Homo sapiens: one gene and its partners. The protein of the gene in region 2 interacts with the protein of the main gene of each other region in a pairwise test. Each region holds a gene or a part of one and is shown on either strand. Other genes may lie near its edges. The genes, in order: TMED8, MDK and HCK.

Region 1 (3,744 bases), on a different chromosome or scaffold from region 2:
CTTGTATTGAGGGAAGCCTAGCTGGCTAATCCACTCTGCAACTTCCTCTGGATCCCAATTAAGATGCTCAAATTGTAACTCAGTCCCTTTTTCTGGCTGGGTTTCGTCATCTTCAGAGACCCGTTCCTTCAACTCTTGGGACAAATCTACAACTTCCTTTTCATGAACGAACTCACTTAATTCTGTCTGAGACTCTGAGGGATCTGAGTATGAGCATTCTTCACTGACATTAAGCAATTTTTGGAGTGGTTGCAAAAACTCATAATGTGTACCAATTGATTCTTCACTTTCTCTGAGAGATCCTAATGCGTAATATTCTTTTCTAAATTTGTCACTTAGTGACAACTTTCCTCTTTTAGGCTCACGGTGCTCTAGCTCATCGTTTCCTACAGAATACTTAGACTTTATTGGTTCTGGCCTGTCTTCCTTGGAAAATTCTACATGTGTCTCCCTTGGTTTGGTTTCATCTGGTAACTCTAGAATTTTCTCAGTTGGCTTTGTTTGTGTTTTCTCTTCAACTTGTGGGTTGATCTCCTGTGGTAGCACTGGACCAGTCTCCTCTGGTGGCTGTGGATTTTTTTTCTCATTTGACTTTCTTATCTCTTCTGGACTTTCTGGTTTCATCATTTCTGATTGTTCTAGAATTGTTTCCTCATTTGTTTTTCTTGATTCTTCCTCAGGAAACTCTAATTTGATCTCTTCTAGTGGCTCAGGAACGTTCTCATCAGTAGACTTTCTTGGCTTGTGGTCTGGAAAGTCTGGTTTAGTCCGCTCAGGTAGTTCTGTCCCTTTCTCCTCAGTTGCCTTTCTTTGCATCTCCTCTGGAACCTCTGGTTGAGTCTCTTCTGGAGGCTCTAGACCTGCCTCCTCACTAGACTTTCTTGGTTCCTTCTCCAGAAATTCCAGTCTAGCCTGCTCGGGTGGCTCTGTCCTTTTCTTCTCAGTTGACTCTCTTTGTGTCTCCTCTGGAGTCTCTGGTTTGGTCATCTTTGGTGGCTGAAGATCTGTCTCTTCAAGTGATTCTCCTAGTTTCTCACTTGGAAAATCTTGTTTGGTCTGCTCTGGAGGCTCTAGACCTGTCTCTTCATGTTGCACTCTAAGTGATTCCTCTGGAACCCCCGGTTCAGTCTCCTCCTCTAGTAATTCTAAATTTCTCTCTCTGACTGTGGCCCCCGAAACCTCAGACATGGTTTCCGTTGGTGGCACTGGATCTGGATCTGTTTCCATAGCTGACTCTAGGAACACATCCTCTGTAACATTTGGTTTAGCCTCCTCTGGTGGCTCTAGGTCTGACTCTTTATGCGTTTCATCCATAGGGGCCTCCAAATCTTTGAAAAACTCTCCCATCTCTCTGGATGTTTCCGACTTTACCTCTTGGTGTATCCCTGGTTCAGTTTCGCTTGGTACGTCTCTCTTGGACTCCTTGGCAATTCCTTCCTGGGACGTCCCGCCAGGTTTCAGCTGCACGTTCTTAGCACTGTCTGGCTCCCCCTCTTTGAAGTCCTCTTCCTCGGTCTCTGGCTGTGGCTCTTGGTAAATCTCTGCTGGTAGCTTCGAGTCTGCCTTTGCCATGGTGTCTGGTTCGGCATTTTCATACAATTTATGAAGTCCAGGCAGTTCAGGCCTCTCAGGCTCCAGCTCTCCATCTTCATCTGGGCCGGAATCATAATCCTCCGGGACTTCAGCCATTTGCAGCTTAGCAGACGCGCCGCGGCTTCCTAGCAACCCCAACTTCCGATAGCGTCTCTATGGATACCACGATTTCCGGCAGTGTCTTCCTGACTCTTCCCCAGGTTTTGTTTGTTCTTTCAAGCCCTGACTTTAAAAATCGTCTGTCACAAGCACGCAGTAACCCTCCCTGCGGCCTCATCGCCAGCCTCAGCGGGCCAGAGCTCCTGTGGCCGCCCCTGGGTCAGCTAGCTTTTCAAGCGGCCGCCGCGCCGCTTCTTCCGGCCTGCAGGCTGCGCTCGGCTGTGCTCGGCGCTCGCTCGGCCTTCGGCTGTTTCCGGAGCCACTCGCGGCTGGCAGCGGAGAGCTCCGTGCGCGGGCTGCAGATGTCTGACCTGCAGGCGGCTGAGGGGCCGGGCTCCTGGAGCCCCACAGCCCGCCCAGGGTCGGCTGGCGGCGTCGGGGACTGCCAGGGAGTGGAGGGGAGCCAGGCGGCCGCCTCAGGTACGCAAGGCCGGGGCGCTGGCGGGTGGGTGCCGCCCGGCCTCAGGGCCCCGCACCACGGCGCGAGCCTCCGCCGCGCTCTGTCCTGGGCTTCCCCGCGGAGCGGACCCACCTCGGCAGCCCCTTCGCGCGCGGGGCCCCTTCCCCGCCGCTGCCACCACCCGGGCCCTGGGCTCGAGGTTATTTTCTACTCACTCCTGTTTCGAAATGCCTTGATTCCTGCCCCGCTTCCTTTCTGAGATCTGCCCAAATGGTAGTGACAGGGTGGCTCTGCCCCTGGCGCCTCTTCAGCTTCAGTTTCAGCTTCAGCCGGGGTTCGGGTCCCACCTCCGTCTGCTAATCACATCTAGACTGCCGACCCGAACCCTACTGGCCTCGCCGCCCCCTGCTTCTGGCTCCCCACCCTATCCCCATCTCAGTCCCCTGCCCCAGCCTTACCACGCGCCTCTCGGCCCCCACCCGGGTTGGCAGCCTTGCCTTCCTCTGCCAGAAGCCCACTGCGCCCTAGCCTTCCTGCACATAGGCCCCCTGGCCTTGCTGCCATCCTCTCCATCGCTTAGAGTGGGAAAAATGAAAAGCAGAGTTGAAATAGGTAGTGTCTGGGGTCTTTTGCTTGAACACAGTAGCCAAAGCAAGAGCAGGAATTAAAAATTTGGCCTACCTCCCTCATTCTCAAGACCCTCATCCTCTTCTTGTCCAGGACGACGTCTCCATTTCTACTAACGCGAGTTCCTCCGTGTGTATTATTTCAGTGTCCAAAGACAAAAGAGTCCATCCATCACACTTTCTTCTTTCAGCCTCCTGAACACCACACACGATGCAACTGAAAGGATGCTCTTTTGAAATACGAAAGGGTAGAGGGGAGAGAACTTGTCTTATTTAAGTAGCAAATATAAATTAATTTTCTAGGTCTGAAATTAAAATAGACACCATAAAGTATAATGGTTGAGGCACTACTGTGGAGCCAGGGTGCCTGGATTGGAGTCTGAAACGTCAGTTTCCTCATCTGTAAAATGTGATTACTAAAAATATCTGCCTCATAGGATTATTGTGAGGATTACTTGAGCTGCTTTGTCTAAGGCATTTGGGGTATAGTCCATGGTACACACTATACTCGTCTCAACCATTGTGACAGTAAGGTCTCTTTTTGTTCAGTTGAACTTCCTGTGCCGCCAGAGGTGTTCTTGGATGTATGGCTTCCAACATGGTGCCTTTTTCTGTCTTCTACTCTGATCCCAAGTATCTTCCCTCTCATAATGCTGCCTTATTCAAACACACACACAACTCACCCAGCTCTTTCCCATGATTTTATATTCTTTTACTTTAAAACACCTGACAAATTTTGCCTTTTTTTCTTACGAACTCTGCTTTGTATTAAATTAAAAATCGTTGGCATATATTTAACATAGCAGTAGAAATTCTAAGCATAATGTCTAAAAGACTAAGCAAGTAAACACAGAAAGGTAAGTCTTATAACACTTGTCCCTTGCATGCGCCAGTATTTACAAATTAAGCATGTTTTTACTTCCCCTTTAGGTTCTCATGTGTTTATGGCAAACGTACCCACGCGTT
Region 2 (3,744 bases):
TGAGAAGCGGGCAGATTCACCCCTGCCCTGCTGGCCTCGCTGGGCTGAGTCACGAGTGAGCTGAGAGGCCCAGGGTGGGCCTTGACCTCCTCCCAACACTAGAAAGGGCAGAGCTGACCAAATGCTGCCCGTGGCTGGAGAGCTGACAAAGGCAAGCCGTTCCAGGACACTCTCCCTGGGTCCTAAGCCAGATGCTCCAATGGAGTAGTTTGAGTTGGTCCCTATTTGGGCCAGGGAGGATTTATGTCCCCAGCATCACCTGCGGCCTCTCTTGTAGTGCCCATCTTCAGACTTTTCCAGGCAGGGAAGCCAAGTGAGGCGATGTCAGGAAGCCACTGGCCAGGACTCAAAACTTAAGGTTTAACTTGGAATTGTCCCCTCACAGGCGGGGGGGGGGGGGGGCAGCCCCCCGCGACAGCCCCACCCCCTTCTCCTTTCGCTGACCTTTGGCCTTTGCTTTGGTCTTGGGGGTGCAGGGCTTGGTGACGCGGATGGTCTCCTGGCACTGAGCATTGTAGCGCGCCTTCTTCAGGGTGCCTTGGCGGACTTTGGTGCCTGTGCCCCCATCACACGCACCCCAGTTCTCAAACTTGTACTTGCAGTCGGCTGGCGAGAGAGCGGCCCAGGTCAGCGCTGCGCGGCCCGCGGCCCCGCCCTCCGCCAAGGGTCCGCCCAGGCTTCGGCGAGGCTGTGCCCCCCGTCTCCTGCCCTCTGACTGCGCCCCGCCTCACCTCCAAACTCCTTCTTCCAGTTGCAGGGCACCCTGCACCGGATGCGCTGGGTCTGGGCCCCGCAGGTGCCCTCGCGGAAACCCACGCCGCAATCCTTGCTGCTGGGGGTGCAGGGCCCCCAGGCCCACTCAGCGCACTCGCTCCCCGGGCCGCCCTTCTTCACCTTATCTACAACGCGCGAGGAACAGAGTTCAGGACTGGGGCACGGGGAGACTCCCTCGGGAGCCGCCTTCCTGGGGTTCCAGGCTAGGAACCCAGGCGGCCCAGCCCAGAAGTGGAGGGGCCTCGCCTGCCCGTCCCCAGCCCTCCTTCGATCATCCCCCATCACCTTTCTTTTTGGCGACCGCGGAGGTGAGCGCCAGCAGGGCGAGGAGGGTGAGGAGGAGGAAGCCTCGGTGCTGCATCCTGAGGGGAGAGCCCGAGTCTGAATCCCTGGCCCGTCCCCTTCCCCACCGGGGGCCGCGTGCAGGGCCCTCCCACCTCCGCGTGCTCCACTTTCCAGGCCCCAAGTCGGGCTGCTAAGGTGGCGGCGGTGGGAAGACTTGGGGCGGCCCCTCGCCGCTAGCCCGGACGCACCGCTAAGAGGCGACTCCCCGGGGGACGCCTCGAGCCCAGGACGCAGCTCAGACCCCCACCCCCGCCTCCAGCCCCCAGCCCCTAGATCGGCCGCGGCCGGGCGGACCAGGGGCCGCCGCGCGCTCACTCGCTCGCTGCCCGCGCTGCTTCGCTCCCTCCCGCGCCGGGCCCGTCCCGCTCCGGCCGCCGCGGCCCCTTTTGTCTCCAGAACCGGTCTGAGCCGGTCACATGGGCCCCCGCCCCCTCTCCCCACCCCCCCAGGGAAGGACCCGCCCCGCCCCCTCCCCTCAAACCCGCACCGCCCCCGACCCCGGCGTCCCCGCCCCCGCTCCAGCCCGCGCCCCCCGCGCTTCTACTCCGGCGTCCGTGTTCCCGGCCCCGCGTCCTCGCGTCTCCCCGCCGGTGCCCTCTGCGCTGCGACGGCGGCCTCTCCCGGCCCCATCTTCCGAGCGGTGGTCTCCCGACCCCGGGCCCCGTCCCGCCCGCGCACACCGGCCCCCGGCCCACTCCCTGCGCCGCCGCCCGCTGCCCCCATCCCAGGTCGTCCCCTGCCGTACGCCAAGGCCCGGGCCGTTCTCAGGCCTCAGCTTCTCTTGCCTGCCGCGGAGCCCCGGCGCCTGTATAACCCGCGGGACCCGCTCCCCTCCACGGCCGGCTCAGCCCTGGCGCCCTGCTGGCTGCTGGGGAGGGGGCGCGGCCCACCTGGGGCGGTTTCCGCGGGTGGGCAGGGAAGCGCTCTGCTGTGCTGGGGGGAGTCTGGGACCCGGTCGCCCAGAGAAAGCCACGGGTGCGGTCGCCCAGTGCCTTTCCGGGAGCACAGGCTTGAGGGACTGCGAGTGGGGGTCCTGGGGGAGGAGCCCGCAGGCCTGGATTTGGTGAAACTTGGCGCTGACAGGAGCCGTCTGAGAAGTTCCAGATCCAGCCACATCGGCAGCTGCAAGTGCCCACCCCCTCTAACCCTGGGCCTGTGGCATTGCCTCGCCCGGTTCCCCCAAACCGGGAGAGCCCCCGAGGCCTGGGGGAGGGGCTTGCTCAAGGCCACAGGGCAAATGGGCCACAGAACCCGGGCTCGCCCCCGCCCCACCCCTCTTTCACTTTCATTGTTGTTCTCCGCGGGAAGCGGGAAGCCGGAGGGATCGGCCCCGCCCCCGGCCCCGACGAGCGCGGCCGCCGGGCAGAGGTCAGGAACCGGGCAGGCCCTGGGACCAACCACCAAACGGGAGCCGGGGCCCCAGGAAGGTGCTGTCGACAGCGTCCAGTCCCCCACCCCGAGGACAACCCCGCAGCCCCCGCTGCTTGTTAGACCTCCCCCGCAAAAGAAGAAAAGCAGAAAAGAAAAAAAAATCCACTTTACTGAGTCACACCCAGCTGTAAACATGTCACCGTGAGAGTCCCGCCCCCCACCCCCAGGCCGCACAGTCCGCGATGAAATGACAGGGGAGCGGGGAGGGTCGCCGGAGCGGGTGCCAAGCAAGGCAGGGCAGGCAAGTGCAGCAGGCGCTGAGTTTCCGGGAGGAAGCCCGGAGGAGGTGGGGTGGGGCAGGAGCGGGGGCTGGGGACCCGGCCGAAGACCAGGGGGCCCAGGAAGCCTCTTCCCGAAGGCCTCCCCCTCTCCAGCCCCTCCACTCCTGGGAGGGCATCTGCTGCGGCCAGGGAGCGCCCTGCCCCAGAACCCCGGCAAAGGCATATCCAACCCAGCCGTGTCTTGTTCCCTGTGAGCCTCCGGGTCCGGCGGGGTCCTCAGGGGAACAGGTGAGGCCCCCCCAGCTCCTGAGTCCAGCCCTAGGTCTGGGCGGCTCCTTAGGGGGCGGCATGGGGCTCTTTCCCTGGGGCCTAGGTCCCCCCGTGGCCGTCCCACTGGAATGTGGCAGTGAGGTGGGCAAGGAAGGCGCTCGTCCCCTGGCCGCATTGTCCCTCCTGCTGCCCGTGGGCGGCCCGCTACACAGCCGTCTCCTGGTCCTCCCGCTGGATCATCTGGTAGTGCTGCCGGTTCTCCAGGTAGGCGGCCAGCTCGGTGTCCTGAGCCTTCTCAGCCCGCTGCCGGGGAGTGTCGCCCTGGAGGAGGGCGGAGCTGCGATCAGCAGGGGCCAGAGGCAGGCCTAACCCCTAGCAGGCTGAGAGGCAGGGGCTCTACCTCCCTGTGGCCTGGTCAGGGAGGGAGGCCTCTCTGCCCACCAGCTCCTCCCCTGCTGGCTCAGGTTTCCCAGGGTCTGGACTGTGTCTTCCCAGGGACAGCCCCCAGCCCCAGCTCCCGCCTAGGACCTTGGGAAAGGTTTGGTTGGTGCCCTCGTGGGCTCCCTGCCTGCCGTCTGCTCACCTGCTGGTCTGTCTTCATGAGCGAGGCCCCGGCCTCCACGATGTAGTGGCAGATGGTGCGCTGGCCCAGGGCCGCTGCTTGGTGCAAACAGGTCTCCCCGCTGGGGGAGCAGGGGCTGGC
Region 3 (3,744 bases), on a different chromosome or scaffold from region 2:
AGGAGTGAGCCACTGTGCCCAGCCAGGATCCAGGTTTCTTGAGCTGTGACCTCGGCCTTCGGTCTTGGATGTACCGGGGGATGCTGCTTGACCCCTCCCCTCAACACACAGTGAAGGGGTCGGTCCAGATCAGTGTTTTCCGACTAAGTTTGGAGAAATCACAGGCCCACCAGTGATTTATATTCCATAAATAAAGGCTCTGTTATGTATGTGAAACAATCTAAGTGTCCATGCAAGGGGGAAGTGACACCTAAACTATGGCATTCTAAGCAGCTCTTTTTTTTTTTTTTTTTTTTTTTTTTTAAAGAGACAGGGTCTCCCTGTATTGCCCAGGCTGGAGTGCAGTGGCGTGATCATAGCTCATGCAGTTCGAACTCCTGGGCTCAAGTAATCCTCCTGCCTCAGCCTCCCAAAATGCTGGGAGTACAAGTGTGAGCCACTGCACCTGGCCTGTGTTTTTATTTTCAAGAAGAATGTATTTGTGTGTCACACAATAGGATTATTGTGAGGATTAGGGTGTTAATAACCGTAAAGGCTTACAACAGTGCTGGGTTCATAGTCAGCTTTGTATAAACATAAAAGAAGTTGGTAAATACCTCTCCTAGCATGACTGCTTCTCTTTTTACAACTCTTGCTGTTGTTCCTGCTGCTACTCTTGGTCTTATACTCACGCAATTATGGTTGGTACTATTAGTATGACAATTGTTACTGTATTTTTGCAATGCTGCTGATACTACCATTACATTGTCACTTCAGCTGCTATCATTACTGTTCACTCGTTTCTCAGCACTGCTTTTGCTTCTGCCCAGGCCGGAGGCCTGAGATGCTCACTCACACCTGTTTGGTGGAGCTCAGGCTGAGGGGCCAAGCCTGGGCTGCAGGAAAGAGAGATGACTTCTTTGCCCCTATGCATGCTGGCTGGCGCTGCGTCCCGGAGAGTCGAGTCAGGACACTGTTGGTGGCCAGTCAGCTCCCTTTCACCCCAAGCTCACCCTGCCCAACCTTGGGAAGACAGGAGGCTGTTAGGGCAATGTTGGGGCAGCATCCGTCAGCCCCCAGGGAAACTGGGACCTCCCCTACTCACCGGCTTGATGGTGGATGTGGGATCCGGCACGTACACAGGACAGTGTGGGCTGGCGCTGGTTTCAGTTTTTGAGAATGTATTGCCTCCGACCTGGAGGAACTTGGACTTCATGCACCCCATCCTGCAGCAGACAGAAGGGAGGTGAGCCCCAGTTACCAAGAGCCTCATGCGGGGAAGTCTTCTGATGCTGGCATTCCAGGTCCCCTGCCCCCGGGCTGGCTCCCACTGGCCTTCCCGGTCTTAACTCCCCTGCCAGCTCCATGCACCCTTATCCTCCCCACATGGAACCCACTCCATCCTTGCCACCTCTGGGCTTCCCCATGTCCACGTGCCACAGCACTGGCCCAGGGCTGACAAGCTGTCATTGTCGTGGGTACCAAGGACCAGCGTGATGGATGTTTATTCAGAGGATGGCATGAGGATAACAGAAATGTAACAGGTAGAGCTGTTGGGTGGGCACTGCCAGCTCTCAGGTCAGAAAGCCTCAGCTGATCCTTGGCCCCTCCACCCCACCAGCACCTCACTGACCACTTTCCTGCCCCTACCCACCTCTCAGGTCTTCATCGGCAAAATGGGGACAATAATATGACCTACAGTGGGGAAATACTCAGTGCAGTGTCAGGCTCAGAGCAAACACTACAGAAAAACTGCAGTATTATCAGATGATAAATTGCCATTTTTATATTAAATAACAAGATGAGGTCACATAACATGGCTCAAACAATCTAGTTTGTCAAGGCACCGTATTACTGGTATCAATTTATAAATTGCTTATAACTCCTTCCCTCCCTCCCTCCCTCCCTTCCTTCCTGCTCCCCCTCCTCTTCCTTCCCCCTCCTCCTCCTTCCCCTCCTCCTCCTTCCCCCTCCTCTGTCCTCCCTCCTCCTCCTCTTTCTTCGTCTTCTTCCTCTTCCTCTTCCTCCTCTCTTTCTCTCTGTCTCTCTCTGAGTTGTTTGGTAATTCATTCATCCATTTACACAGCCAAGATTTACTGGGCACTTTTCTAAACTGTGAAGAAGAGAAGCAAGTTCACGCCCTCAGGACCTCAACTGCAGCCGAATGGGAGACAGAGACAATAAACAGGCCAACAAATAAATAACAGGGCAAATTGAGTTAATGAAAAGTGTGAGGACAATAAGAGAGGATGCTGTGGGGAACAACAGGTCTGGCTCTTTTAGGCAGGGCATTTGGGGAAGGCCTGTCAGAGAAAGGGATACAGAACCTGCGGTCTAAATGACACAAAGGAGCCAGTGAGGGGACACTCTGAGGGAAGAGTGTTCCAGGCAGAGGGAACAGCAAATGCAAAGGCCCTGAGGCTGGCATGTGCTTAGAGAGAAGTTGGAGGCACTGAAAGCAGGAGAGTGTAGCTGAAGCTCATGGGCAGGGAAGAGGGTGGTTGTGACAAGGCCACCATATCCTGTAGGGCCAGTAAGGACTTTGGATTTTATTCTAAGGATGATGGAAAGTTTCTGGCAGGAGAATGATGGGATTCAATTTGCACTTTAAATAATCCCACCGGTGGCTGAGTGAGGCGTGGACAGTGGGGAGCAGGGGAGGGAACCCTGTGAGAAATCTGCCAAAATTGTTCAGGTATGAGATGATGGTGGCCCAGGGTAGTGTGGGGGCAGAGAGGAGGTAAGCATTGGACAGGTTTGGGGGACATTTTGGAGGTAGAGCTTGCAGACTTTGCTGCTGTATTGAATTAATTTAAGGATGCTTAAACAAAACACATTTACTCCAAGTAGAGTCAAAACATAATTGTAAAAGTGGAAGAAATGTTTCATTTCTTTTCTCAAAATGTGCACACACATTTGCTGAGAAGGCAGGCTGTGACAACCACATAAGGAAGTGCTTGCTTTTCTCATCTCTGCACAATTGCCATTTTCTTCTAAAGCAGTTAGAACTCAGTTATACTTATCTTGTTAAAATAAACATGTATTTGTGGTTTAAGGAAAAAAACCCCAAACTCCTAGGCTTAGATGAGTTACTTTTAAAAATGAAAAAAGATTCCTTTTATTTACAAGGATTTACCTCTTCTGGTGGGAACTGGGAAAGATTTGCCACCTCAAGACTTGAGCGGTTTTGCTTTGTTTGTCTTTTGGAAATAAAATAAGGAACACATTCAGACTCTTGGAGTGCTGGATCATTAATTTGAAAAATTATCATAATTAAGCACAGATTTATAATGTACTTGCATGCATTTAAAACTGAAACCAGCATCTCTCTTTGAGATAAATGTGTATTACAGTTCTGGGAAATTAAACGGGCATCTTGTGTGACATATATGACATAAAATTATATCACATTTCGTGTGTTTTGGTCAGCATAAAGATGTTCTGGGAAGAGCAGCACTGTGTGAGGTAGGGCAGCTCACTCTACCTCTCTGGGCACCCACTGATCTGCAGCTGTGAGTCTTGTGATTTCCAATCCATGCGCGTTGAGCACCTTGTATGCTTCACTTACGTGATCAATGTACATATTCAAGATGGCCACAGGGTCCCGAGGGAGGGGTCTCAGAAGACCTGTGTTCATTCACAATCCAAGGCCATCTCTGAGAAAGGGTGGCAAGGGTTCTACCTCATAGGGTGGTGGTGAGCACTGAGCAAGTTGATGAGTGTAAAAGTGCCCAGCATGCAGTAAGCGCTGCAGAAACATTAACC

Evidence for each region.
Region 1: the proteins of MDK (region 2) and TMED8 interact in binary tests that used the Homo sapiens proteins (3 or more experiments, as listed by UniProt).
Region 3: the proteins of MDK (region 2) and HCK interact in binary tests that used the Homo sapiens proteins (3 or more experiments, as listed by UniProt).

Annotation. Positions count from the first base shown.
Region 1 is NC_000014.9:77,375,364-77,379,107, reverse strand, and holds the start of TMED8 (protein TMED8), read left to right. Parts: upstream 1-2,013; 5' UTR 2,014-2,054; coding exon 2,055-2,172; intron 2,173-3,744. Other genes in the region: SAMD15 (sterile alpha motif domain-containing protein 15), read right to left, coding at 1-1,689.
Region 2 is NC_000011.10:46,379,449-46,383,192, reverse strand, and holds the start of MDK (midkine isoform a precursor), read right to left. Parts: upstream 1,525-3,744; 5' UTR 1,435-1,524; exon of another isoform or gene 1,137-1,434; 5' UTR 1,136-1,136; coding exon 1,060-1,135; intron 900-1,059; coding exon 732-899; intron 607-731; coding exon 445-606; intron 1-444. Other genes in the region: DGKZ (diacylglycerol kinase zeta), read right to left, coding at 3,246-3,362, 3,625-3,724. UniProt on the Homo sapiens protein: Secreted protein that functions as a cytokine and growth factor and mediates its signal through cell-surface proteoglycan and non-proteoglycan receptors. Binds cell-surface proteoglycan receptors via their chondroitin sulfate (CS) groups.
Region 3 is NC_000020.11:32,069,123-32,072,866, reverse strand, and holds part of HCK (tyrosine-protein kinase HCK), read right to left. Parts: intron 3,180-3,744; exon of another isoform or gene 3,116-3,179; intron 1,206-3,115; coding exon 1,085-1,205; intron 1-1,084. UniProt on the Homo sapiens protein: Non-receptor tyrosine-protein kinase found in hematopoietic cells that transmits signals from cell surface receptors and plays an important role in the regulation of innate immune responses, including neutrophil, monocyte, macrophage and mast cell functions, phagocytosis, cell survival and proliferation, cell adhesion and migration.